2 separate regions of the Homo sapiens genome follow, and region 2 is linked to region 1. The links come from fine-mapping of genetic effects on gene expression. A gene starts in region 1. The other region holds a variant in brackets. All regions are shown on one strand. Distances are between the middles of the regions. Region 1 holds the start of GALE (UDP-galactose-4-epimerase). Region 2 holds the start of CNR2 (cannabinoid receptor 2).

Region 1 (8,233 bases):
GGGTTGAGTGAGGCCACACGCATGGGCATAAGAAGGCTGGAGTGTCAGGGTGACTTTGACAGTTCAGTCCTAGGAGACACCAGGAACATGGAAGGGGCCCTGGGAAGGGTCAGGTTCATGACCTGAAATGAGTCAGTTCTCTCTTGGCTTTGTTTTGTTCTCTGTAAAATGAGGACAGTAGCGTTAGACAGCTCACCAGGGATCCGCCAGAGTCCACCAGGGCCCTCAGTGGCGGGACGGAAGCAGAATAGCATCTGTGCTTAAAGATCAGATGGAACTGGGTTTAAAGCCTACTCCTGCCACTCCCAGGCTATGAGACCTCAGACAAATTATTTCATCTCTCTGAACCTAAGAAATGGGAATAATAATGCCATCCATCTCATGGAGCCATTGTGAGGATTAAGTAAGAAAACGTACGTAGAGGGCCAGGCGCACGCCTGTAATCCCAGCACTTTGGGAAGCCAAGGCGGGTGGATCACCTGAGGTCAAGAGTTTGAGACCAGCCTGGCCAATATGGTGAAACACTGTCTCCACTAACAATAGAAAAATTGCTGGGCACGGTGGCTCACGCCCGTAATCCCAGCACTTTGGGAGGCCAGGGTGGGCAGATCACCTGAGGTCAGGAGTTCGAGACCAGCTTGGCCGACATGGTGAAACCCCATCTCTACTAAAAATACAAAAATTAGCTGGGTGTGGTGGCACGCACCTGTAATCCCAGCTACTCGGGAGACTGAGGCAGGAGAATTGCTTGAACCCAGGAGTCAGAGGTTGCAGTGAGCCAAGATCACGCCACTGTACTCCAGCCTGGCGACACAGTGAGACTCCCTCTCAAAAAAAAGAAAAGAAAAATTAGCTGGGTGTGGTGGCACACACCTGTAACCCCAGCTACTCGGGAGGCTGAGGCAGGAGAATCACTTGAACCCGGGAGGCAGAGGTTGCAGTGAGCTGAGAGCGTGCCATTGCACTCCAGCCTGGGCGACAAGAGCAAACTCTGTCTCCAAAAAAAAAAAGAAAGAAAAGTTATGTAGAATGCTTATCACAGAGCTGAGCACAGAGTGCACTTCAGCAAATATGAGCTACTGTATGAACAGAGGGTTTCTGTCTGGCCCTTTCAGTTGGTGTTTTTATCCCTCCCTCTCTGCCTCACAATTGTCACTTGAATATCAGTTTTTTACCTCTGTGGGCCAGGCCCTGTGCTGGGCCCTGAAGAGGGAGTACTGAACAAGACTGATAAGATCTGTGCCCTGGTAGTGGCACTACAAACCATGACAGAGATTGGGCATCTTACATGAGGGGGAGTCAGAGGAATAACCCAGGTGCCAGACAGACAGGAGCTCACAGGCAGCTGGTGCCCCGCTGTCAAGGAAAAAGCCTGTTTATCTTCACCTTTACTTTTCAGTATCACAGTTGTCTGTCCATGCTGATGTTTTCCCTGGTGTTGAGGGCATACCATGACTTACCGCATCCTCTAACTTGTTTCTCAAAGGGTGTGAATCTCCAGAAGCTTCTGGAAGCTGGAAACTTTATCTGTCAAGCCCTGAACAGAAAAACTAGCTCCAAAGTGGCTCAGGCTACCTGTAAACTCTGAGCCCCTTGCCCACCTGAAGCCCTGGGGATGATGTGGAAATAGGGGCACACACAGATGATTCATGGATGGGGACATGGAAATGAGAATAGGTTAAATGGTGCAGGTACCTCATAGCCAGCTCTACACAGAGGTCTCTCCTGGCAGAAAGCAGGCGAAGGGCAGGAGGAGCTGCTTGGCAGAAGGACCTCCTGCCCAGACCTGAGGAGTGAGAGGCTTTGAGGGCTGAAGTCTCCCTTTGTTACGGACCCTGGCCCAGGAGTTGAATGCCTGAGGACGTGTGGGAACCCCGTTCCCTACTTAGCATGATCCTTGAGTCTCCTCTCTGGATGGAATCCGCGAGCTGGCCACCTGGCCACCCTCTACACGGCTCCACCCTGCCATGGCCGTGGGGCCCTTGCTCTCTGACTTCTCAGGACACAGGTCATGGAGGTTCTTCCCAAGCTGGCAGAGGCCATTTGTGGAAAGTGGAGAGCTACGTGGTGGCCGTCTGCCAACTCCAGCATCTCTGGAAAATCTCCACGCTGAATGTGATTTTTGAAAACAGCTTATGTAATTAAAGGTTGAATGGCACATCATAATTCCAGCATTCGGTTGTGCAGCTGTGTGTATACATGCGCGTGGGGGAGTAAAATACTTTACCATGTTGCACTCTGAGAGGAAAATGGAGACTATGAACTAGTTTATTAATCTTTGGATTTCCTCCCTGTTTCCCCACCTGAGCCCCAAATCCATAGTGACTGGAAATCAGTGGTTTTGGGCTTACTCAGGAGGCTGCTTGCGGCAGTTGCTGGCCAGAACACCCGACGGGGTTGTTTCTGAGCTTTGCCTCTGTGACTGGGGCTATTGCACAAGCTCCCCTGAGGACACACTTGCTGCTTTGGGCCTCGGTGGCCCGGCCTCTCCCTGGCGCTCCCGGGCCCGGGAGCGCTCACCTGTCGGTTCCCTGGACTCTGCGGGCAGGCGCTGGCTGATTCCCGGCTGCGCGGACACCTGTGCGCTCCTGCATTTAGGGCTCCTTTGCTCTGGTTTCATCACGCAGGATGTCACATTTTGTGCATATTATTCTCTAGCTCTACTACTTTTCATTGTAAACAAACAATCATTTTCTAACCTGCCGTCGTGGAAGGCAGAGTGCAGACCGACCCTTCCCGGCAGGTGGGGGCTGAGAGCCAAGAGCGCTGGAACCGCTAGTGTGGCCTGACAGCTTCCTCCAGCTCCTTGGTTTATTTGCAAACTGGACTTCCAGCACCAGGCCCCCTGCGACCCCCTCCTGCCTTAGTCCCGTGGGATCGGGTAGTTCAAGATTTTGAATTCATGGTTTGGCACACACCGGCAAGTCTGAAAACCTGCGGGTCAGAGTGGGGCGGAGGCGTGGGCCCCCTACCCTCTGCCCCCTGCCCCCTCGGAAGCGCAGCCCTCTTCCAGGGGTTGGGACGAGCTAGCGCGGGGACCCGGGGCACCGGCAAGGACCCACCCGCTACTGGGACCTGGCGCCGGCGGCGCCTCTCGCGGGGTGGCACCGCCCACTTCCGCCTTCCGCGGGCGCGCGCTGCGCAGTCTTCGTCACAGCGCGGAGGCCTTTTGTCCTCCCGCCCTCCCCGTAGTGGCCGTAACCCGAGTGACATGTTTCCTTGGGGGCGTGGAGGGGCGGGGTCGGGGCCGGAGTGGGCCGTCAGCACTTAAAGGGCCCGCGGCTCGGGCGTAGGAGGCGGTGCCTCTGCAGCAAGCGTGGGGCGCGGGAACCCGAGCAGGTTCGGGAGACGGAATGAAGGGCCGGGTGGGCTCGCGAGGGGCCGGGGAGTCCGCGGGGAGCGAGGGAGTTTCCGAGGGGCGGGTCGTGTTCCTGGCAGCGTCCCTCCAGGGCAGGCCCGCCCCCTTTGTCCCAGTTCCCCGCTGCCCGGGCTGGGGCGGCCGGGGTTCATTCATTGCCGGCCTGAGGACTCCTAGCTCGGCCCCGCTCCGCGCTACAGCCCAAAGCCCAGCCTGAGACCCAGCCGCCCTCGTATGCCCACGGCCTAGCTCCCCTTCCCTCCAACAGACAGACTGGGAAAACCGAGTGGGCGACGGCTGAGCAAGGTCACTCCGCTGTCGGGGGCGCAGCCGGCCTCAGACCAGCTTTCGTGCTTCCCAGGGCCTCTCTGCGACCACTTTCGGGGTCCGCGCCAGGCGCGGGGCGGGGGCGGGGGCGGCTTCGGCGCGGCGGGCAGAGTCCAGCGGGCAGCGGTGGGGGAAGGGCGAGCCGCCTGGGGAGAGGGCCGGGCTGCGAGCCTGGCGATCCAGATTCCAGCCCGCTGTCGCCAGCTGTGGGACCGAAGGGCAACTGTTTCACCTCTCTGGCCCTAGTATCTGTATCTGTAAAGTGCCAGTGATAACACCTGTCTCACCGAGATGCTGGGGGAATTCAGGAAAATCATGCAAAAGTGCCTGGTACGGAGCCTGGCACGCAGAGGGCTCTTGGTCAAGTGGGTTGGAGCTGCGTGAGCCCAGAAGGGGATAGAGGCAGCGTGGAGGAAGGCGGCAGCGGGCCCGGTCGCTGGGAATGAAAGGCCTCAGTGTCTGGGGCTTCCTCCCCGTACTACCCGCAGAGTTTGTTCAGGGTGGAGGTGCGCACCTGGCCAAGTCCACGTCTACACGGCCCACCCAGAGTAGCCTAAGTTGGGCGGGATTCCTAACTCTGAGCCAGGAGTGACCGGGCTGGCCCTGGCATGGGCAGAGGCTGAGCGGGGGTTGGGGTGGGGCCCCCTCCAGGACCAACCACGGTGTGGTTGCCCCTGAGCTGGCCTCAGCCTGCCTGGCAAAGGACCTCACCCTTGAGGCCATGTGATCTATTTCCTGCTTCCTCCCAGCTGACCCTTGAGGGAAAGGGGGTGGGGGCCGCCTAGAGCAGGAGGTATTAGTCACTGCGCCCAGGAGCCAGTTTACACCTAGCGAAGGCGGAGGCATTGGACAAGCCTGGGTCTGAGCAGACAGAACCCCTTCCTGCGACCCTGGAGTCCCAATCGTGCTGCCATTTTCCTTCTGCCCAGGACTCTCCAGTCCTCAGTCACCTTGGACAAAGAAGTGTGGATCCTCAGATTCCATCTTTTCCAACTCCAAGGCAAGTGGAACTAGAAAATAAGGTGCCTGTGTGTCAGGTCTCCCCAGCTCTGCTGTGGCGGGCCCTTAAGATCACCTCACTGAACCCTCACGCTGCCTCATGAAGTTTATACAATTATTAGCTCTGTTTTACAGAGATAGAAACTGAGGCCAAGAGGCTAATTAATTTCCAAAGCCTAAGGCCAGAAAGTGATGGTACCCAGACTTGCCCCAGGGCTGACTTCTGAGCCAGTCTGGTACCTAGGGCACACTGCCGCCTCCTTCCAAAGCGAGCTTAGGGGGCAGGATTCCAGTGGGAAGGAAGCTCTGAGCAGGCAGCCTCAGCCACCTCTGAGACTCTGTATCCTGGGCCAGGTGCCATGGCAGAGAAGGTGCTGGTAACAGGTGGGGCTGGCTACATTGGCAGCCACACGGTGCTGGAGCTGCTGGAGGCTGGCTACTTGCCTGTGGTCATCGATAACTTCCATAATGCCTTCCGTGGTGAGCGGGGCAGTGGGGCTGGGGCTACTTGAGGGGATGGCAGAAGCAAAACCCTGGGTTCCACCTCCACCACCGGGCGGGGAATGTGTGTCTGGCTAGTCCCTGGGAACACAGCACCCCATGTCGTGATGATGTGGCCTACATGTACCCTACCAGGAGGGGGCTCCCTGCCTGAGAGCCTGCGGCGGGTCCAGGAGCTGACAGGCCGCTCTGTGGAGTTTGAGGAGATGGACATTTTGGACCAGGGAGCCCTACAGCGTCTCTTCAAAAAGGTGGGTGCAGGCTGGGCACGGTGGCTCACGCCTGTAATTCCAGCACTTTGGAAGGCCGAGGTGAGGAGATCACTTGAGCCCAGGTGTTCAAGACCAGCCTGCTCAACACAGTGAAACCCCATCTCTACAGAAAAATACAAAAATTAGCTGGGCATGGTAGCCCATACCTGTGGTCCCAGCTACTCGGGAGGCTGGCATGGGAGGATGGCTTGAGCCTGGGAGGTGGAGGTTGCGGTGAGCTGAGATGGCACCACTGTACTCCAGCCTGGACAACAGAGCGAGACTGTCAAAAAAAAAAAAAAAGGTGAGTGCAGGCAGGCAGGCTGAGGGCATTGCCAAGGACTAAAACCAGTAGAGCAACCTCTGGCCATGTCACCCCTGCAGTACAGCTTTATGGCGGTCATCCACTTTGCGGGGCTCAAGGCCGTGGGCGAGTCGGTGCAGAAGCCTCTGGATTATTACAGAGTTAACCTGACCGGGACCATCCAGCTTCTGGAGGTGAGAGGCATGGGACAGGGCACAGACACTAGGAGGGTGTCCAGCTGGACCCCAGCCTGGCAGGCAGTGCCAAACACAGAGCCCAAGCTGTATCATCCTGGACTCATGTCTTTACCTCCCAGTCTCAGTTTCCCCATCTGTAAATGAGAGTGCTCATCACCTCAGCCCCATTCTCCTGTGGAGGAGTAACAGGGTGGGAGTAATGTGTGAGGCAGAGGTCACTGATGCCATCTCTCCACGGCCAGATCATGAAGGCCCACGGGGTGAAGAACCTGGTGTTCAGCAGCTCAGCCACTGTGTACGGGAACCCCCAGTACCTGCCCCTTGATGAGGCCCACCCCACGGGTGGTTGTACCAACCCTTACGGCAAGTCCAAGTTCTTCATCGAGGAAATGATCCGGGACCTGTGCCAGGCAGACAAGGTGAGGGCCCCCTTGACAGTGCCCTGGCTCCACTGATCGATGGACTCCTCAGGGCCCACCCTGAGCCCAGGGGTGGGATTCCGAACACCCCCACTAAGGAGGAAGCTAAGGCTCAGGCAGTTGCAGTGGAGGGCCCCATCCCCTGCTTGTTTCTAAAGATAATAAATAGACAACTGGCCGGGCGCAGTGGCTCATACCTGTAATCTCAGCACTTTGGGAGGCCCAGGTGGGCAGATCACCTGAGGTCAGGAGTTCAAGACCAGCCTGGACAACATGGTAAAACCCCCATCTCTACTAAAAATACAAACATTAGCCGGCCATGGTGGTGTGTGCCTGTGGTCCCAGCTATTCGGGAGGCTGAGGCACAAGAATTGCTTGAACCTGGAAGGCAGAGGTTGAAGTGAGCCAAATCAGGCCACTACACTCCAGCCTGGGCCATAGTGAGACTCCATCTCAAAAAAACAGAATAGGCATGAGGAGGGCTCTGGGTTCAGCTGGGACACGCTGCCTGTGCCTCTGGCCTCACCACCTGACCCACATCCCACAGACTTGGAACGCAGTGCTGCTGCGCTATTTCAACCCCACAGGTGCCCATGCCTCTGGCTGCATTGGTGAGGATCCCCAGGGCATACCCAACAACCTCATGCCTTATGTCTCCCAGGTAAGGCAAAAGGGAAGGGACAGAGGAGTGGCCCTGGGGTTAAAGCTGGTGCCTGGGATCTGGGACGAACTGACCTGATCTCCACCTCCAGGTGGCGATCGGGCGACGGGAGGCCCTGAATGTCTTTGGCAATGACTATGACACAGAGGATGGCACAGGTGAGCCTAGGACCAGGGGGACCTAGGAGTGGGAGCCAGGAAGGAGAGTCAGGGGGAACAGACTCCCCATCCAACACACTCCCTTCTCTGCAGGTGTCCGGGATTACATCCATGTCGTGGATCTGGCCAAGGGCCACATTGCAGCCTTAAGGAAGCTGAAAGAACAGTGTGGCTGCCGGGTAGGAAGAGAAGGGAGAAGTGAGGGAGGGGAGGGACCAGATCCAGGCAGAGCGGCCCAGAGGCGTGGTCAGTCCAGCCCGCTCCATAAACCCTGTTCTCCGTGGGCCAGATCTACAACCTGGGCACGGGCACAGGCTATTCAGTGCTGCAGATGGTCCAGGCTATGGAGAAGGCCTCTGGGAAGAAGGTAGGCCCCCCCGCCCCACCCACCTCACCCACCTCACCCCACCCAGCTCTCAGCAACAGAGCAGCTTTGGCCCTTCCCACTCACCTCTCTGGAGGGTACCTGGCACTGCCCAGTCTCCTCAGCCTGCCTAGCACCCGGTGCCTGCGGGCCAGCCGCTGCTCTGCACTTCTGCTTCTTAAAGACCTGGCCAGCAGCTGGGCCAGGGCCGGCTCAGCTAAGCTCCAACTACCTCCTGTCTTGCAGATCCCGTACAAGGTGGTGGCACGGCGGGAAGGTGATGTGGCAGCCTGTTACGCCAACCCCAGCCTGGCCCAAGAGGAGCTGGGGTGGACAGCAGCCTTAGGGCTGGACAGGATGTGTGAGTGCTGGCCTGACCCCTGCAGTTAGGGGCCAGGGAGGGGCTAAATCAGATCTGGGCATGCCCACCCAGGGCGGGCTGTGGGGTGGGGGAGGCTCTGCATTCCACCGTGGGCCCTGAGCACACACCTCGCCGTGTTGCAGGTGAGGATCTCTGGCGCTGGCAGAAGCAGAATCCTTCAGGCTTTGGCACGCAAGCCTGAGGACCCTCCCCTACCAAGGACCAGGAAAAGCAGCAGCTGCCTGCTCTCCAGCCTCTGGCAGGAACTCAGGGCCCTGGAGCTGCTGGGGCCAAGCCAAGGCCTCCCCTACCTCAAACCCCAGCTGGGCCCGC
Region 2 (16,388 bases), 120 kb before region 1:
AAGTCATGTGAATGAGTCGAGAACCCATGATTTGAACCCATAACTATCCATTCCAGAGCCTATGCCCGTTCCTTAACCAGCCTGCCCTCCCAGGATCAGCATAACCTGGCTGCCTTCAAGGCTTTTGAGTTTGTACCTTGGCTAAGCTCTGTGCTCTTCATGCCCCCAGGACTGGTCAGAGGGGCTGGGGAAAGGAACGAGGGAAACACTGTCTGGGGCCAGTGGGAAGGAACCCCAAGTCCTGTGCCAGCTATGGAACTTCCACTTGTGGTCCCAGGGGTTCTGGCCACACAGTGCAGGGTTGGGATTCATGCCCTTATTGAGGAGACAACACCTATTCACACATGACCAACAGGGGTTATTTTGGTGCCAACTCCAGTCAGCTGAGTGTCAGCATGGAGTGCTGAGTTGAGAAAGATCATGAGCAGAATCTGGGCTGGGCAGGATTAAGGGTCTTGATCCATTAGTTATGTCTGCCACTGATACATAACCAGGTATGTTGGCACATGGGCCTTGCATCCCAATCTTACAAAACTACATCTCTTTTCATATGGGACAATACTAAGAAGCAAGCACCACAAGGGCAAGGATTTTGTCTGTTTTCATCCCCGCTATATCCCCAGTGCCTAGAACAGTGTCCTTCAGGGATTAGGATCTCAGTGAATATTTGTTGCATGAATGAGACAATTATGGTTTAGTGGTTAAATGGATTGACTCCAAGCCTGTCCCAATTCTAGGTTTGAATTCCATCTGTGCCACTTGATGGCTGGATAATATTGGATAAGTTGCTTTGTTTAACTTTTCTGAGACTCACCTACTTCATTCGTCTATTCATTTATTCATTCAACAAATATTAGTTGAGCACCTAATGGATGTTGAACACCTAATTTTGGGGATGTACCAAACACTGTTCTAGACACAGGGGACGTAGAAGTGACCAAAATAGATATAGATCCCTGCTGTTATGAAGTTTATATTTTAGGAAGGAGGAACAGAAAAATGAACAAATGAAATATACAACAGGTGTTGGCTGGGCACGGTGACTCATGCCTATAATCCCAGCACTTTGGGAGGCCAAGGCCAGCGGATCACAAGGTCAGGAGATCGAGACCATCCTGGCTAACACTGTGAAACCCTGTCTCTATTAAAAATACAAAAAGTTAGCCGGGCGTGATGGCATGCACCTGTAGTCCCAGTTACTCCAGAGGCTGAGGCAGGAGAATAGTGTGAACCCGGGAGGCGGAGCTTGCAGTGAGCCGAGATTGCGCCACTGCACTCCAGCCTGGGGGACAGAGCGAGACTGTCTCAAAAAAAAAAAAAAAAGAAAAGAAAAGAAATATACAGTAGGTGTCATGTGATGATAAATGCTTTGGAGAAATACTAAATGAGTCAGGGGGCCAGGCGCGGTGGCTCACGCTGTAATCCCAGCACTGTAATCCCAGCACTTTGGGAGGCCAAGACCGGTGGATCACCTGAGGTCAGGAGTTCGAGACCAGCCTGGCCAACATGGCAAAACCCCATCTCTACTAAAAATACAAAAATTAGTTGGGTTTGGTGTAATCCCAGCCTATAATCCCAGCTACTCGGGAGGCTGAGGCAGGAAAATCGTTTGAACCCAGGAGACGGAGGCTGCAGTAAGCCAAGATAGTGCCACTGCACTCCAGCCCGGGTGACAGAGCGAGACTCCATCTCAAATAAATAAATAAATAAATAAATAAAATTTTTAAAAATAAAATGAGTCACAGAACAGGAATTCTGGAGTGAGGTGGGAGAAGATTTGCCTCCTGGCCTATAGGACCATGTGAAGATTACACTCCGGAGTACAAAAGATGGTGAACTTGGTCTTACCCAAAACACCTAGAGCTCCTCTTACCTACTTCCTGGGGAATATTATGTTATATTTGAATATGTAACACAATATAGATATATAATCCTTACTGGTAAGTGTTGTGAGGGTTAAATAAGAAAATATTTGTGAAAAGTTTAACTCTGTGTCTGGTATACAGTGAGGGTTCAGTGAGGAGGTTTATTAGTGTTTTCCTTTCATTTATTCAGTAGACATTTACTAACTATTGACTATACACCAGAACCAGCCACCTGGGGCTAAGTGTTATGACTCAGTTCAGCCAATGCTTCACCTTCCCAACTGGACTGTAAACACGTTGAGGGCAGGAGTTATGTCTAATTCAGTCCCACATGGAAAGTCAGAGCAGGATGGTCTCTCCCATCTTCTGCTTTTGTAGGAGAAGAATCTGAGGCTCACACTTGTTCAAGGCCACATGGCAGGATGAGGCAGTGCCAGAACTAGAACTTGGTCTCTGATCTGGTCTTTCCTCCCCTGTTGCTTCCTCATCCATCCAAGGATCTCCCGAATCCCCGGTTATTAACTCTTGGCTATACCCTTTTATGGGTCCTGCAAGCTGTTGTTAAAGACAAAATTATTAGTGACACTCATTCAAGATGGTAAGGAAGCGTTTATTCAAGGGGGGGGGGCGCATCATGACAGGTATAAAGACCACTTCAATGGGGTTTTGCAGTTGGGGGGACTCAAGTCCACATACAGAATCAGCAAGTGGAAATTTATAGCCAAGGAGCAGGGTGGGGATCACCGGATGAAAAATTACTAAGAGAATACATCAGAAGTAAGGGGAGGGGGGCTTCTGGCTAAGCCAACCTAACATCCTGGCTGAAGGCAAGCCAGGATCATCAGATGTCACCTGGGAGGTGGTGGAGGATGAAGGACCCTATCAGATATTGAGGGTGATCAGACATGGAGGACAGGAGATTCTAGCTAAATCAACTTCACAGGATTCTTGCTGACATTGACCAATGCAGAGATGAACACAGAAGTCAAGGTCTCGTTGAAAAGTTCAAGGCTAGGCCGGGCACGGCGGCTCTCGCCTGTGATCCCAGCACTTTGGGAGGCCGAAGCGGGAGGATCTTCCAAGGTCAGGAGTTCGAGACCAGCCTGAGCAACATGGAGAAACCCCCTCTCTATGAAAAATACAAAATTAGTCGGGTGTGGTGGCACATACCTGTAATCCCAGCTACTCAGGAGGCTGAGGCAGGGGAATCGCTTGAACCCGGGAGGTGGAGGTTGTGATGAGCTAAGATTGTGCGCCATTGCACTCCAGCCTGGGCAACAAGATCGAAACTCCACCAAAAAAAAAGAAAGAAAGAAGAAAGAAAAGAAAAAGAAAAAAGAAAAGTTCAAGGCCTGAGTAGAGTTTGGTCAAGGAATCTTTGTCACTATTCAGCCTGTGATATAAAACCATGAAGTCGTTCAGTCAACTTTTCCTGGAAGTTCAAACCTATCCACAGCTTCTCCAGCCAACTGGAGTCGGGAGTGCCCAGCCAGTTGGATGCTTTGGCATCTGCTCAGAGTGGAAACTGCAGCTGCAGACTTTGCTGCGGTTGTTCAGTCGCCAGTGACCCAGCCAGTCCAGCGGCATGAAACGCCTCCTTCTGACCCATTTGTTTTAACCCCTGTGTTGGGGCCCTGGACTCTAACTTCTCTTTGTACAGAAAACAGCTCTTCCTGCCACCCCTGGCCCCTTTGGGCTCTGTTTTGTCCTTAGCCCTAACTCTCTTTGCCCTCCCTCCACGTCTCTGAACCCTTGCAAGGATGGGAGTGGGAAGTGGAAGACAGGTTTTTCCCTGTCCCTCTTCCTCCAAGAGGTTGCACCCCCTAATGGGCTACCTTCTCATGTCCCCTGTCCTTTGTGTCCTGCTGATCACTCCAACTCAGCACCTGGGCCCCAGAATGCATCTTATGTCTTTTTGACTCATTCTCCAAGCACAGTTCTAGACACATAAACAGACAAATAAATACTTGCTGGCTAATTGACAGGTACAGCAATTTAAGGAAACAAAACAAAAACTGAACGAGAAATGGGACTTGTGACAAGCTGGGAAGACTTCCTGGAGGAAGAAGGACTTATGTTGGGCCTGGAAGAAGGAGTCAAGACCAAATTGATAAGCAAGAGTCAGAGGGCATTGCAGGCTAAGAGAATCAAAGGTGTAGAGGTGAAAATATGTGGGCAGATTAGAATTCCAGACCTAGAGAAGAGGCTCTCTAATAAGTATTTTCAGCTTGTGATCCATTGGTGAGTAATAAAAATTATTTCTTTGGCTACAAATGGCATAGTTAAATAAAATAAAATTAATTAGAACTGAATAAAATAAAAAGGAAAATATCAGAGTGTATCCCGTATAGTAAGAATTATTGGTTTCACGAAACTGAAGTTGCAATTTTACATATAGTATGTATTATATGTGTTTCTGTTTTTGTTTTTTGTTTTTATGTTGTTGTTTGTTTGTTTGTTTTTGAGATGGAGTCTTGCTCTGTCATCCAGGCTGGAGTGCAGTGGTGTGATCTCAGCTCATAGCAACCTCCACCTCCCAGTTTCAAGCAATTCTCCTGCCTCAGCCTTCCGAGTAGCTGGCACTACAGGCATGCACCACCACACCCGGCTAATTTTTGTATTTTTAGTAGAGACAGGGTTTCTCCATGTTGGCTAGGCTGGTCTTGAAATCCTGACTTCTGGTGATCCTCCCACCTCGGCCTCCCCAAGTGCTGGGATTACAGGTGTGAGCCACTGCTCCCGGCCTTATATGTGTATTGAGTCATGATATAAAATGAATCTTTCATGGATTGCAGTAAGAAAAAAAAAAGTTTTAACTTCTTACCAAACCCAGCCTGTTCATTTCACAGATGACGGGGCTGAGGCTTATAGAGAGTTAGAATGGGGCTGGGATTGGACACTGGGGTTTCTGACTCCCAGTGTCCTGTCTCCCCACACCATCCCACCTTCCAGAGGTAAAGGAACAGATCAGACCCACCTCCCAGACTCTATGGCTTCCATTATTTTTGCCATGCCAGGGACACTCAGCAATTATTCATTCAACAAATACTCTCTGAGTATTTGTCCAATCATGGGTTGGACACTTGTGCCAGGTACCGGGATAGTATGGAATTTATGATGGGTGTGTGGGATTTTACTGCCTGACATGGGTTTTCTCCTGGGTTAACTTTTATATTTTTTGTTCAGATTGGAGATGTGAAAGGAAAATTATCCCGACACTTGTTAAAATGGTGAAGATAACTTTAAGACTATTGCAGTAGGGGTGTTGCAACGGATTGCGGGGAATCAGACGCAACTCCAAATACAACACAGATAAGTGGGAATTTATAGCCAAGGAGCTCAGTGACTGGGGGGGTCTGTGGGTGGAAATTTACTATCAAAAGACTAAATTACAACAAATTGGCCAAGTGTGGTGGCTCACGCCTGGTGTGTAATCCCAGCATTTTGGGAGGCCGAGGCGAGCAGATCACCTGAGGTCAGGAGTTTGAGACCAGGCTGGCCAACACGGTAAAACCCGTCTCTACTAAAAATACAAAATTAGCTGGGAGTGGTGGCGCATGCCTGTAATCCCAGCTACTTGTGGGGCTGAAGCAGGAGAATCGCCTGAGTCCAGGAGGCGGAGGTTGCAGTGAGCCGAGATTGTGCCACTGCACTCCAGCCTGGGCAACTGAAACACTCCATCTCAAAATAAATAAATAAATAAAATTACAACAAATTTAGTTTAAAGATCTTAATTGGCATTTATTTGTGATTCTAGAATAGAGCAACACCTCATTCTGTAAAATGTAATAAGTGTTCCCATGAGCCAAGCAGAAGGTTTTAGTTTTATAGACAGAAAAGGGGTGGGGAAAGCAGAAACAGAGAACAAAAGGGGGATTCATTTCCTAGTAAAGGTTAAAGCAGAGGGAACATGGGCCAGGTGTGGTGGCTCATATCTGTCATCCTAGTGCATTGGGAGACTGGGATGGGAGGATCGCTTGAGGCCAGGAGTTCGAGACCAGCCTGGCCAACATGGTAAGACCTCATCTCTATAAAAAATAAAAAATAAAAATTTAAAGGTTTTTTTTTTTTTTTTTTTTTTTTGACAGAGTCTTGCTCTACCACCAGGCTAGAGTGCAGTGGCGCGATCTCAGCTCACTACAACCTCTGCCTCCCAGGTTCAAGCGATTCTCCTGCCTCAGCCTCCCGAGTAGCTGGGATTACAGGCACACGCCAACACACCCAGCTAATTTTTGTACTTTTAGTAGAGACGGGGTTTCACCATGTTGCCAGGCTGGTCTCAATCTCCTGACCCGTGATCTGCCCTCCTCGGCCTCCCAAAGTGCTGGGATTATAAGCGTGAGCCACCACACCCGGCCTTAAAGTTTCTAAAAAGCAGGCCAGGCGCAGTGACTCATGCCTGTTATCCCAGCACTTTGGGAGGCTGAGGCAGGCCTATTGCTTGAGGTCAGGAGTTCGAGACCAGCCTGGCCAACATGGTGAAACGCTGTCTCTACTAAAAATACAAAAAAAAAAAAAAAAAATTAGCCAGACACGGTGGTGCATGCCTACAGTCCCAGCTACTCAAGAGGCTGAGGCAGGAGAATCGCTTGCAAAAGGTGGAGGTTGCAGTGAACTGAGATCATGCCACTGCACTCCAGCTGAGTAACAGAGCAAGGCTTCGTTTCAAAAAAAAGTTTTTAAAAAGCAGAGAGCACTTTGTTATCATGCCTGCCAAAATTGGCTTGTTTGGAGGTTTGGTGTTTATCTGGCTCTCTCCTGGTTTCTCAGAAGGTCAGATAAACAACTTAGTTTTGGCTTGGTAGCATGGGCTTCGGCACGAGGAACTCCATTTCGGTCTGCTCTATTGGGCCTCGTGCAGGAAGTTCAGTTCAAATCAATGTCCTCCTATAAATTTTAACATTACTAAGAGGAGACGTCAAGAATATGGAGATTCTTGTTAAACAGACCTAACAAGATTCTTGCTAAAGGCAGGCCCAGGACATACACATCAAAGGTGGGCGATGAAGAACTTTATCAGATATCCAGGGTAGGGGGATGACTTAGCAGGATTTTTTGCTAGGACTGGGCTGGGCCAACCAAAGACAGGACAGAGCCAAGTTCAAGTTCTAATTGAAAAGACAGAGGAACCTAACTAAAGTTTGCTCAAAAAGAGTGTTTGTCAGTGACAGCATCTATATTTATCTTATTACCTTGTTTATACCAACCCCTGATATTTATATGGTGTTTTCCATTTTTTCTTTTTCTTTTCTTTTTTTTTTTTTTTTGCATGTAATTGCTAGGTGGTATTACTAGATGGAAAAACTGAAATTCAAGAAAATTAAGTCACACAGCTATTCAGTGGCAAACTGGGAACAGAGGCCCAGGTCCCTCTGGTTCAGAGCCCAGACTCTCAATCCTTGTGCTATGTTGCTTCTCATGGAAGCTGGAAAATCCAAATATAATCTTCTGCTACCAAAGCTGCCTGCCACAGTCCTCTTTTGGAGAGGGGAACGTTATCAGCCTGTGCTTGTACTGCTGGCTGAGCCCTATGGTGAGAGTCGAGACAATCACTAAATGCTCTCAGGTCCCGCAGCCTGGTAGGCTCAGATCTGCCTTGGCATCTGCCCACATGGCTATTTATAGAATTGACTGTTTACTGCTGGGGCTGGGCAGGGGCTGGGCTGGGGCTGCGCAGGAAGGCAAAGGGCAGCTCTAAAGAAATAGTCACGTGCTGGGCGCTGGCATTTTTTCAGACACTGGAAGCCCCAAGTTTGGCTCCAAACTCTGGTTCTATTAATCAACCCTCTAATTCATCTCTTCCACTGTGTTCTCTCCTCTGCCCCCATGGCCCAGCCTGGGTTCCTCAATACCTCTGGCCTGGAATTGTGGCAGCCCAGAAAGAAACACATCTAAACGTTAACAGCATCTACCTCCCTGTGGTGAGATCAAGAAGCATTTTTGTTTTCTTCCTTCTATTTTTAAAAAGTTTTCCAGCCGGGCGCGGTGGCTCACGCCTGTAATCCCAGCACTTTGGGAGGCCGAGGTGGGCGGATCACGAGGCCAGGAGATCGAGACCATCCTGGCTAACACGGTGAAACCTCGTCTCTACTAAAAATACAAAAAATTAGCCGGGTGTGGTGGCGGGCGCCTGTAGTCCCAGCTACTCGGGAGACTGAGGCAGGAGAATGGCGTGAACCCGGGAGGTGGAGCTTGCAGTGAGAGATCGCGCCACTGCACTCCAGCCTGGGCGACAGAGCGAGACTCCGTCTTAAAAAATAAATAAATAAATAAATAAATAAATAAGTTTTCCATACCATTGATGGGCATTTAGGTTAGGGGGAGAAAAAAAAAATAGAAAGAAGTTTTCCAAAATGTCCAAAATAAGAATGTTGGGTTTTTCAGGGAGACCTTTGGTGGGTTTATTGCCTTAAGCAGCCCCCTGCCGTCTATGA[C/T]GCACTGTCATGGATTCTGTCCAAGGTCTCTCTTGTGGAATTGGTTCATCAAGGGATTGAATTTTTATTTACTTATTTATTTATTTTGACGGAGTCTTGCTCTGTCGCCAGGCTGGAGTGCAGTGACGCGATCTCAGTTCACTGCAGCCTCTGCCTCCTGGGTTCAAGCAATTCTCCTGCCTCAACCTCCTAAGTAGCTGAGACTACAGGTGCGTGCCACCACGCCTGGCTAATTTTTGTATTTTTAGTAGAGACAAGGTTTCACCATGTTGACCAGGATGGTCTCAATTTCTTGGCCTTGTGAACTGCCCGCCTCAGCCTCCCAAAGTCTGGGATTACAGGCGTGAGCCACGGCACCTGGCTGGACTGAATTTCTTTTATCCCGTTTCCTCCCATTTCCCGCAGCACCAAAAGTAACTCTCCTCTGGGGTACCTCTGGGTGGATAAGTATCCTTAACTTTAAATGTGTCCTTGTGAAATATGTTATACTCTTGTATATATAGACGTTTTCTAATTTACAAAATGGTCACATGTTAGAAGGCTTACTTTGCTTCCTTTTTGACGTGGCACATTGTTGGTTGCTTCTGTTTACTTTCTTTCTTTTCTTTTCTTTCTTTTTTTCTTTTTTTCCAAGACGGAGTTTCGCTCTATTGCCCAGGCTGGAGCGAAGTGGCACGATCTCGGCTCACCGCAACCTCTGCCCCACGGGTTCAAGCAATTCTCCTGCCTCAGCCTCTTGAGTACCTGGGATTATAGGTGCCCGCCACCATGCCTGGCTAATTTTTGTACTTTTATTAGAGACAGGGTTTCACCATGTTGGCCAGGCTGGTCTTGAACTCCTGGCCTCAACTGATCTGCCTGCCTCGGCCTCCCAAAGTGCTGGGATTACAGGTGTGAGCCACCGCACCCGGCCTGCTTCTGTTTACTTTCATAATTGGGGGAAAAAAGGCCTGACAAATGGGCAAAATTTGGGTCTGATGGATTTCCTTTTTTTTTTTTTTGAGACAGAGTCTTGCTCTGTCACCAAGGCTGGAGTGCAGTGGCACAATCTCGGCTCACTGCAACCTCTGCTTCCCAGGTTCAAGAGATTCTCCTGCCTCAGCCTCCTGAGTAGCTGGGATTACAGGCGCCCACCACCACACCTGACTAATTTTTCTATCTTTTAGTAGAGACAGGTTTCATTATGTTGGCCGGGCTGGTCTTGAACTCCTGACCTCAAGTGATCTGCCAGCCTTGGCCTCCCAAAGTGTTGGGATTACAGGCATGAGCCACCCCACCTCACTTGGCCCGGTGGATTATATTCTTGAAAATGATGGAAAGTAGATTTTATTTTATTTATTTATTTATTTTTGAGACAGAGTCTCGCTCTGTCGCCCAGGCTGGAGTGCAGTGGCACAATCTTGGCTCACCGCAAGCTCCGCCTCCCAGGTTCCTGCCATTCTCCTGCCACAGCCTCCCGAGTAGCTGGGACTACAGGCGCCCACCACCAAGCCCGGCTAATTTTTGTATTTTTTAGTAGAGACAGGGTTTCACCATGTTAGCCAGGATGGTCTCGATCTCCTGACCTCGTGATCCGCCCGCCTCGGCCTCCCAGAGTGCTGGGATTACAGGCATAAACCACCGTGCCCGGCGGATGGAGAGTAGATTTTAAGTGTTCTCACCACAAAAATAAGTATATGAGGTAATGCATATGCTAATTGGTTCAATTTAGCCATTCTACAATGTATATGTATATTACAAAACATCACATTGTACATGTTAAATGTATACAATTTTTGACAATTCTAAAAAATTAATTAATTTTAAAAGGAATACTGTATAGCAGGGTTTAAAAGGCAAAACATAACAACAGTTTTGGTGAAAATATGTTATCCCATATGATTGCAGACACATTTTGTTTTATTTTCCCAAGTTAATTCAGGGACCAACATTTACACTGAAAACTGAATAATCTTTTTTTTTTTTCTTTTCCTCCATCGCCCAAGCTGGAGTGCAGTGGTGCAGATCATGGCTCATTGCAGCCTTGACCTCCTGGGCTCACATGACCCTCCTGCCTCAGCCTCCTGAGTAGCTGTGAGTACAGGCATACATCACCATGCCCAGCTAATTTTTTATTTTTTGTAGAGACAGGGTCTCGCTATGTTGCCTGGGCTGGTCTCGAACTCCTGGGCTCAAGCAATCCTTCCTTCCTCCTCGGTCTCCCACAGGCCTGGGATTACGGACATGAGCCACCATGCCTGGCTTTGAACCATCTTAGGGTCAGTTGGTTCAGACAGTGCAAAGACTGCTTCCCTGTGGCCTGACAGGAAAAGTATACCTCTCGGGAATGTTCCTCCTCAGATCAGACCCTCAATATGACAGCACTCGGCCCCAGCATGGGGTAGATCCATCCTGTAGATGGCGGCATCTCACAGTACAAGGGCTGCTGAGGCCAGCTCTACCCAAGGAGCTGAGAAAACCGCCTCCTAAACCCTCACCTACAATTGCTCCTGGCCCTCCCAGGGCAAAAAGAGAACAGACTTCCCCTGTGGGCCCCATCAGCCCTGCCCAGGGGACTGAGAGATCATGGAGCTTCCTTATTGATTCTCTTGTCCAGTGCTGCCCATAGGGAGTCCAAGGACCGACAGCATCTGCTTCCCCTGGGAATTAGTTAGAAATGCAGATTCTTGGGCCCCATCCCAGAATACTGAATCAGAATCTCTGGGAGTGGGGCCCAGCAATCTGTGTTTTGGGGTTTTGTTTTTCAAGTCAAGGTTCTCTCTCTGTCACCCAGCCTGGAGTGCAGTAGCATAATCAGAGCTCACTATAACCTCAAACTCCTGAGTTCAGGCAAGACCTCCTCCCGCCTCAGCCTCCCAGAATGCTGGGATTACGGGCATGAGCCTCCTCACCCGGCCCCAATCTGTGTTTTAACAGGCCCTGTGGGTGACTTCCATGCACTCAGGCGTTTCAGGGGCACCTGTTATCTCCAACTTCCTCATTTTAGGAATGGAGAAATTGAGAACAGATACAGGAAGCAACTTGTTGGTCAGCCAGGCAATGGCAGAGACCACACAAAAACTCCGCTTCCCAGCGTTCCTTCCACTTGAACTTTCAGTAACTTCCTTTCTTTCTTCCTTCGTTCATTCATTCCTTCACTCATTCATGCCTTCCACCTCCAATTACATGCTTTGGGCTGCAATGGAGGACCAGGCGTTTGGGGACAGCCTCACCCTTCTTCCCCATGTGGGGCTTTCTCAAGGCCAGAGGTCTAGGATTCAGGATTGTGGAAGCATCTGCTAGATCTCTTCCAGCTCACCCCTGGGTCTCCAATTCCAGCCCAGATAGGAGTCTGATGTAGGCTGCAGGCGGGCCCCACTCCCCAGCTCCTTCTGGTCTTCTTTTCCTCTTTCTTGGCACCTGGGGCTCTCTGTCCCATTCCTCACTGCCAATGTCTTGCTCTTGGGAGAGATGCAAGGGCTGGAGGCTGTTACTGTTCCATTTCCCAAAGGGATGAATGATCAAATTAAAGGCCCTTCCCAGCAATGGCTTTGCGCTGAAGGAGCCAGGACTAGGTCCAGACCAGGGTTCGCAAGTTAGCATCTTGAGCTGGATAATTCCTTGCTGTAGGGCTGTCCTGTGCATTGCAGAATGGTTAGCAGCATTCCTGGCCTCTCCCTAGCAGATGTCAGTAGAATTCCTCCACCAGGTTGTGACAACCAAAAATGTCTCCAGATATTGCCAAGTGTCCCCTCTGGGTGGTGTTGCCAGATAAGACAGAGAATGCCTGGTTACATTCTTTTTTTTCTTTTTCTTTTTTCTTTTTTTTTTTTTTTTGAGACAGAGTCTCACTCTGGAGCCCAAGCTGGAGTGCAGTAAGGCGATCTCGGCTCCCTGCAACCTCCGCCTCTGTGGCTCAAGCATTTCTCATGCCTCAGCCTCCTGAGTAGCTGGGACTACAACTACGCACCACCACACCCAGCTAATTTTTTGTATTTTAGTAGAGATGAGGTTTCACCATGTTGCCCAGGGTGGTCTTGAACTCTTGATCTCAGGCAGTCCATCTGCCTCTGCCTCCCAAAGTGCTGGGATAACAGGCGTGAGCCACCACGCTAGGCTGAGCATTCTAATCGCACATAAGCAACAAGTAATTTTTAGTGCCTGAATGTCTCAACTATTGTTGCATTACCTCACATACTTATTTTTGTGGTGAGAACACTTAAAATCTACTCTCCATCATCTTCAAGAATATAATTCATTGGGCCAGGTGGGGTGGCTCATGCCTGTAACATTTTTTACTTGAAGAATCTTGCAACTCTACCTCAGGGGCAAAATCTTTCTTCATTGGCCCAGATCAGGGTCTGGGGTGTGGGGAGCAGTTAGTGAGAGGATCTGATGAGATAATCATAGGCCATGAGTTTACAAGGGCAAAAACTTTGCCATAATCATCTCTGTATCCTTAGAATATAATGGCGTCTCATTAAATATTTTATCTGAGAGTGGGTGTGAGGACACTTGGAACTATATCAGATACCATACCTGAGTACATCCAGCCCAGGACTGGACATTAGGGACATACTCCCTAATAAATATAAACTGAAGATAATGTTTAGTTTGACTCACATAGCATTTTTTAAAGGTGTGACTTTGGGCTTTACATTCTAAAATTGGCAACTGGCTGAGCATGGTGGCTCATGCCTGTAATCCCAACACTTTTGGAGACTGAGGCGGGAGGATTTGCTTGAGCCCAGGAGTTCAAAACCAAGCTAGGCAACATAGTGAGACCCCCATCTATACAAAAAAATTAAAAAAAAAAAATAGCCAGGTGTGGTGGCACATGCCTGTTCTGCCGGCTACCTGGAAGGCTGAGATGGGAGGATCACTGGAACCCAGGAATTTGAGGCTGCAGTGAACTATGATCGTGCCGCTGTACTCCAGCCTGGGCAACAGAGCGAGACCCTGCCTCAAAAAATTAAAATAAAATAAAATAAAGTAAAATAAAATAAACAGGAAGTGGCTGGGCGTGGTGACTCACCCTGTAATCCTAGCACTTTAGGAGGCCAAGGTGGGTGGATCACTTGAGGTCAGGAGTTCAAGACCAGCATGGTCAACATGGCAAAACCCTGTCTCTACTAAAACTACAAATTAGCTGGAGGTGGTTGTGTGCACCTGTAGTCCCAGCTACTCAGGAGGCTGAGGCAGGAGAGTTGCTTGAACCCAGGAGGCAGAGGTTGCAGTGAACCGAGATTGCGCCATTGCACTCCAGCCTGGGCAATAGAGCGAGACTTGGTCTCAAAACAAAAACAAACAAACAAAAAACAAAACACACACACACACACACACACAGGAAGCTATCACATAAGTCAAGATTTCTGGTATCTCTTGAAAAATACAGCACAACTTCCAAATGCTTGGAATATCTGACAATTTGCCTATACTCCCAAGCAGAAAAGCTTGGCTGGAACTAAGAGGTACCTGCCCCTCTCTACTGGCCCAGATCAGGGTCTGGGGTGTGGGGCAGATACCTCTCAGCTGGGCCAGTAGAGAGGGTCAGGTACCTCTCAGCTCCAGCCAAGCTTTTCCACTTGGGTCCTGTGTTCCCCCTATTACCCACAGTCCCTACCACTCCCTATTGCCCCACACCAGGATCCATCACCCATTATGTTAATCTGCCTGTAGGCATTTGCATTTCAAAGCTCTGGCCTAGTGGTGAAGAGGCATTGGAATGGCATGTCCTTTTAGGTGATCTACTGTAATGTTGGTGCATTATCCCCATTTTACAGATAAAGAAACTTGCCTTTGGGGAAGTTAAGTGAATCAACATTTTAACGAGGCTGTATTAGAACCCAAGTCCCTTGACTCCAGGGTCTAGGCCCATGCCCCACCCTGGCCAGAGTTCGTTGTAAGAGATAACTCAACCGCAGGGGCAAGAGCATTGTGGCACCAGGGACCTGGAGGGGAAGTGGTAACAGGCACGGAAGGCCAGACCTCCTCACACTCACTCATCTGTGAGAAAGTACAAAAGCAAGAGAAAGCTGGCTTGGGGTGGCACTCAACAGGTGCTCTGAGTGGCACCCACGGCCAGGTCCTGGGAGAGGACAGAAAACAACTGGGACTCCTCAGCCCCCGGCAGCTCCCAGTGCCCAGCCACCCACAACACAACCGTGAGTAGCTTTTTTTGTTGTTTATTTTAGGCTTCTTCCTCATTCCCCAACACCTGTATTCTTTTTTGTTTGTTTGTTTGTTTTTGAGACGGAGTTTTGCTCTGTTGACCAGGCTAAAGTACAGTGGCACAATCTCGGCTCAGTGCAGCCTCACAGGTTCAAGCGATTCTCCTGCCTCAGCCTCCCGTGTAGTTGGGATTACAGGTGTGCACTACTGCGTCTGGCTAATTTTTGTATTTTTAGTAGAGACAGGGTTTCACCATGTTGGCCAGGCTGGTCTCGAACTCCCGACTTCAGGTGATCTGCCCACCTTGGCCTCCCAAAGTGCTGGGATTACAGGCATGAGCCACTGCACCTGGCCAAAACCTGTATTCTTACCTTATCCCTTCCCTCCAGGGACACAAGAAGCCAGGTGGGCCTGTCTGGGGCAGGGGATAGATGTCATTTCAGGACACCTGGGGTTGTGGAGGACCAGTCGCAGGAAAGTTCAGGGCTGGCATCCCCCTCCTAGGACCAAGAATCAGGACTTTGGCTTTCATTTCATTACAGAGACAAGAATCACACACACAGAGATGGCCTTACTGTGTGCCAGGCGCTGCCCTAAGAGCCTTTAGTGGTTGGATTTATTTAATCCTCACAACAGCCGTATGCAGTAGGAGCTATCACTGTTGTCCACTTGATAGGTGGGGGCTAGGTGACCCACCTGAAATCATGCGGGCATTGAATGAGAGCATTGGCTTGAGCCTAGGCACTCCGGCTTCGCGGCCCACCCTTCAGCCACCAGGCTATCCTGCCTTACGAGGTGTGGACTGCAACAGTAGATGGGGGCCAGGAAATGACAGGGGCTGGCAGAGGCCTTTGAGATGACCAGGTGAGTCCTGCGCTCTCATTTTATAGATGGGGAGACCACAAGGTAGTGTTAGGGGCACACTGGACTCAGGAGGCCAGGGGTCTGCTTTGGTGTAAGTTCCACTCAGCGGAGGGAAGAGCAGTATTTTCCAGTGTGCCCTGGGGTCAGCGTCCAGGTCTGAATCCCAGCTCTGCCACTGGTAGCTCGATGGCCTAATGCAAATCACTCCATTTCTTTCCTGCTCAGCTTCCTCTTCTGAGAAACATGGGCCTGAGAAGGTCACTCACAGGCTTGTTGCGAGTCAACTGTCTGATGCGGGCACAGGGCGGGCAGCAGCACAGGGCTCGGGAATGGCTGTGGTGGAGAGTTTGATCTTCACCCCATCTGCTCTTGCTGTGGATCTGAGATGAGGATAAAATGAGGCCTGGCTGCTTTTCCCTGGAATGAGTGGCAAGTAGACACGTTGGCAGCATGAAAACCAGGATGGAGGCTGGGGAGAAGTTCAGGGAGAGCTCAGGAGGTGGAGTCCCAATAATCCTGGCCCCAGCTCTGTAACCACCTTGTGGCTTACCAGAGTGACCCCCTAACCTGCGCTGGGCAGGTGAAGCATATCCTTTACCCTTTGGCCGGCTAAGGCCAGGATAAGGCAGTGAAGACGGGAAAATGGCAGCCTGGCTCAGCCAAGCAGAGCCCTCCAGCGCCAGCCCCCTCTCTTCCCACCTCATTTTACAGTACCAGTCACTCTTACTGCACACCCTCGGGTGTGCATAAATTGATCTTTTCTTTATTCAGTTGAAGTCACATTCAATAGGACCCTGAGCCTCATCCTACTGGGCTAGGAGGAAATTTAATCTCCAAGTGCACTGAGCTTCCCTCACTCCCATCCCCACCCATGCACATTGACCCAGAGGACACACAGAACATAAGCGTGAGGGAGGCTCCTGGGTCCTCCTACGATGGATGCCCATTGCCCAAATGGACTTGATTGTCTGAAGTCCAGCCTTGCCCACTTCCCTGGCATGCCTGGAGTCCAGATTCTTTGTAAGACCTGAAACCACTGTGTCTCATTTTGACATCCAGGATATATCACCCAGTG

The links. PIP is the estimated chance that this variant, and not a neighbour inherited with it, causes the effect.
Region 2: its variant is fine-mapped to the expression of GALE in whole blood (TOPMed, PIP 0.99).

Annotation. Positions count from the first base shown.
Region 1 is chr1:23,795,818-23,804,050 of GRCh38, reverse strand. It overlaps GALE (UDP-galactose-4-epimerase), which reads left to right and starts at 3,297. Exons shown (of 12, transcript NM_001008216.2): 1 at 3,297-3,339; 2 at 4,615-4,685; 3 at 5,039-5,164; 4 at 5,321-5,436; 5 at 5,821-5,934; 6 at 6,180-6,356; 7 at 6,904-7,017; 8 at 7,109-7,175; 9 at 7,269-7,354; 10 at 7,465-7,542; 11 at 7,786-7,900; 12 at 8,044-8,233. The coding sequence starts at 5,044. The coding sequence ends at 8,102. HMGCL (3-hydroxy-3-methylglutaryl-CoA lyase) reads left to right here. Exons shown (of 9, transcript NM_000191.3): 9 at 1,487-2,166. The coding sequence ends at 1,588. RefSeq lists silencers at 2,887-3,096, 3,257-3,736, 3,787-3,886.
Region 2 is chr1:23,911,300-23,927,687 of GRCh38, reverse strand. It overlaps CNR2 (cannabinoid receptor 2), which reads left to right and starts at 14,326. Exons shown (of 2, transcript NM_001841.3): 1 at 14,326-14,442. RefSeq lists enhancers at 10,598-10,647, 14,000-14,514, 15,288-15,457. The variant C/T (reference allele first, on the strand shown) is at 8,300.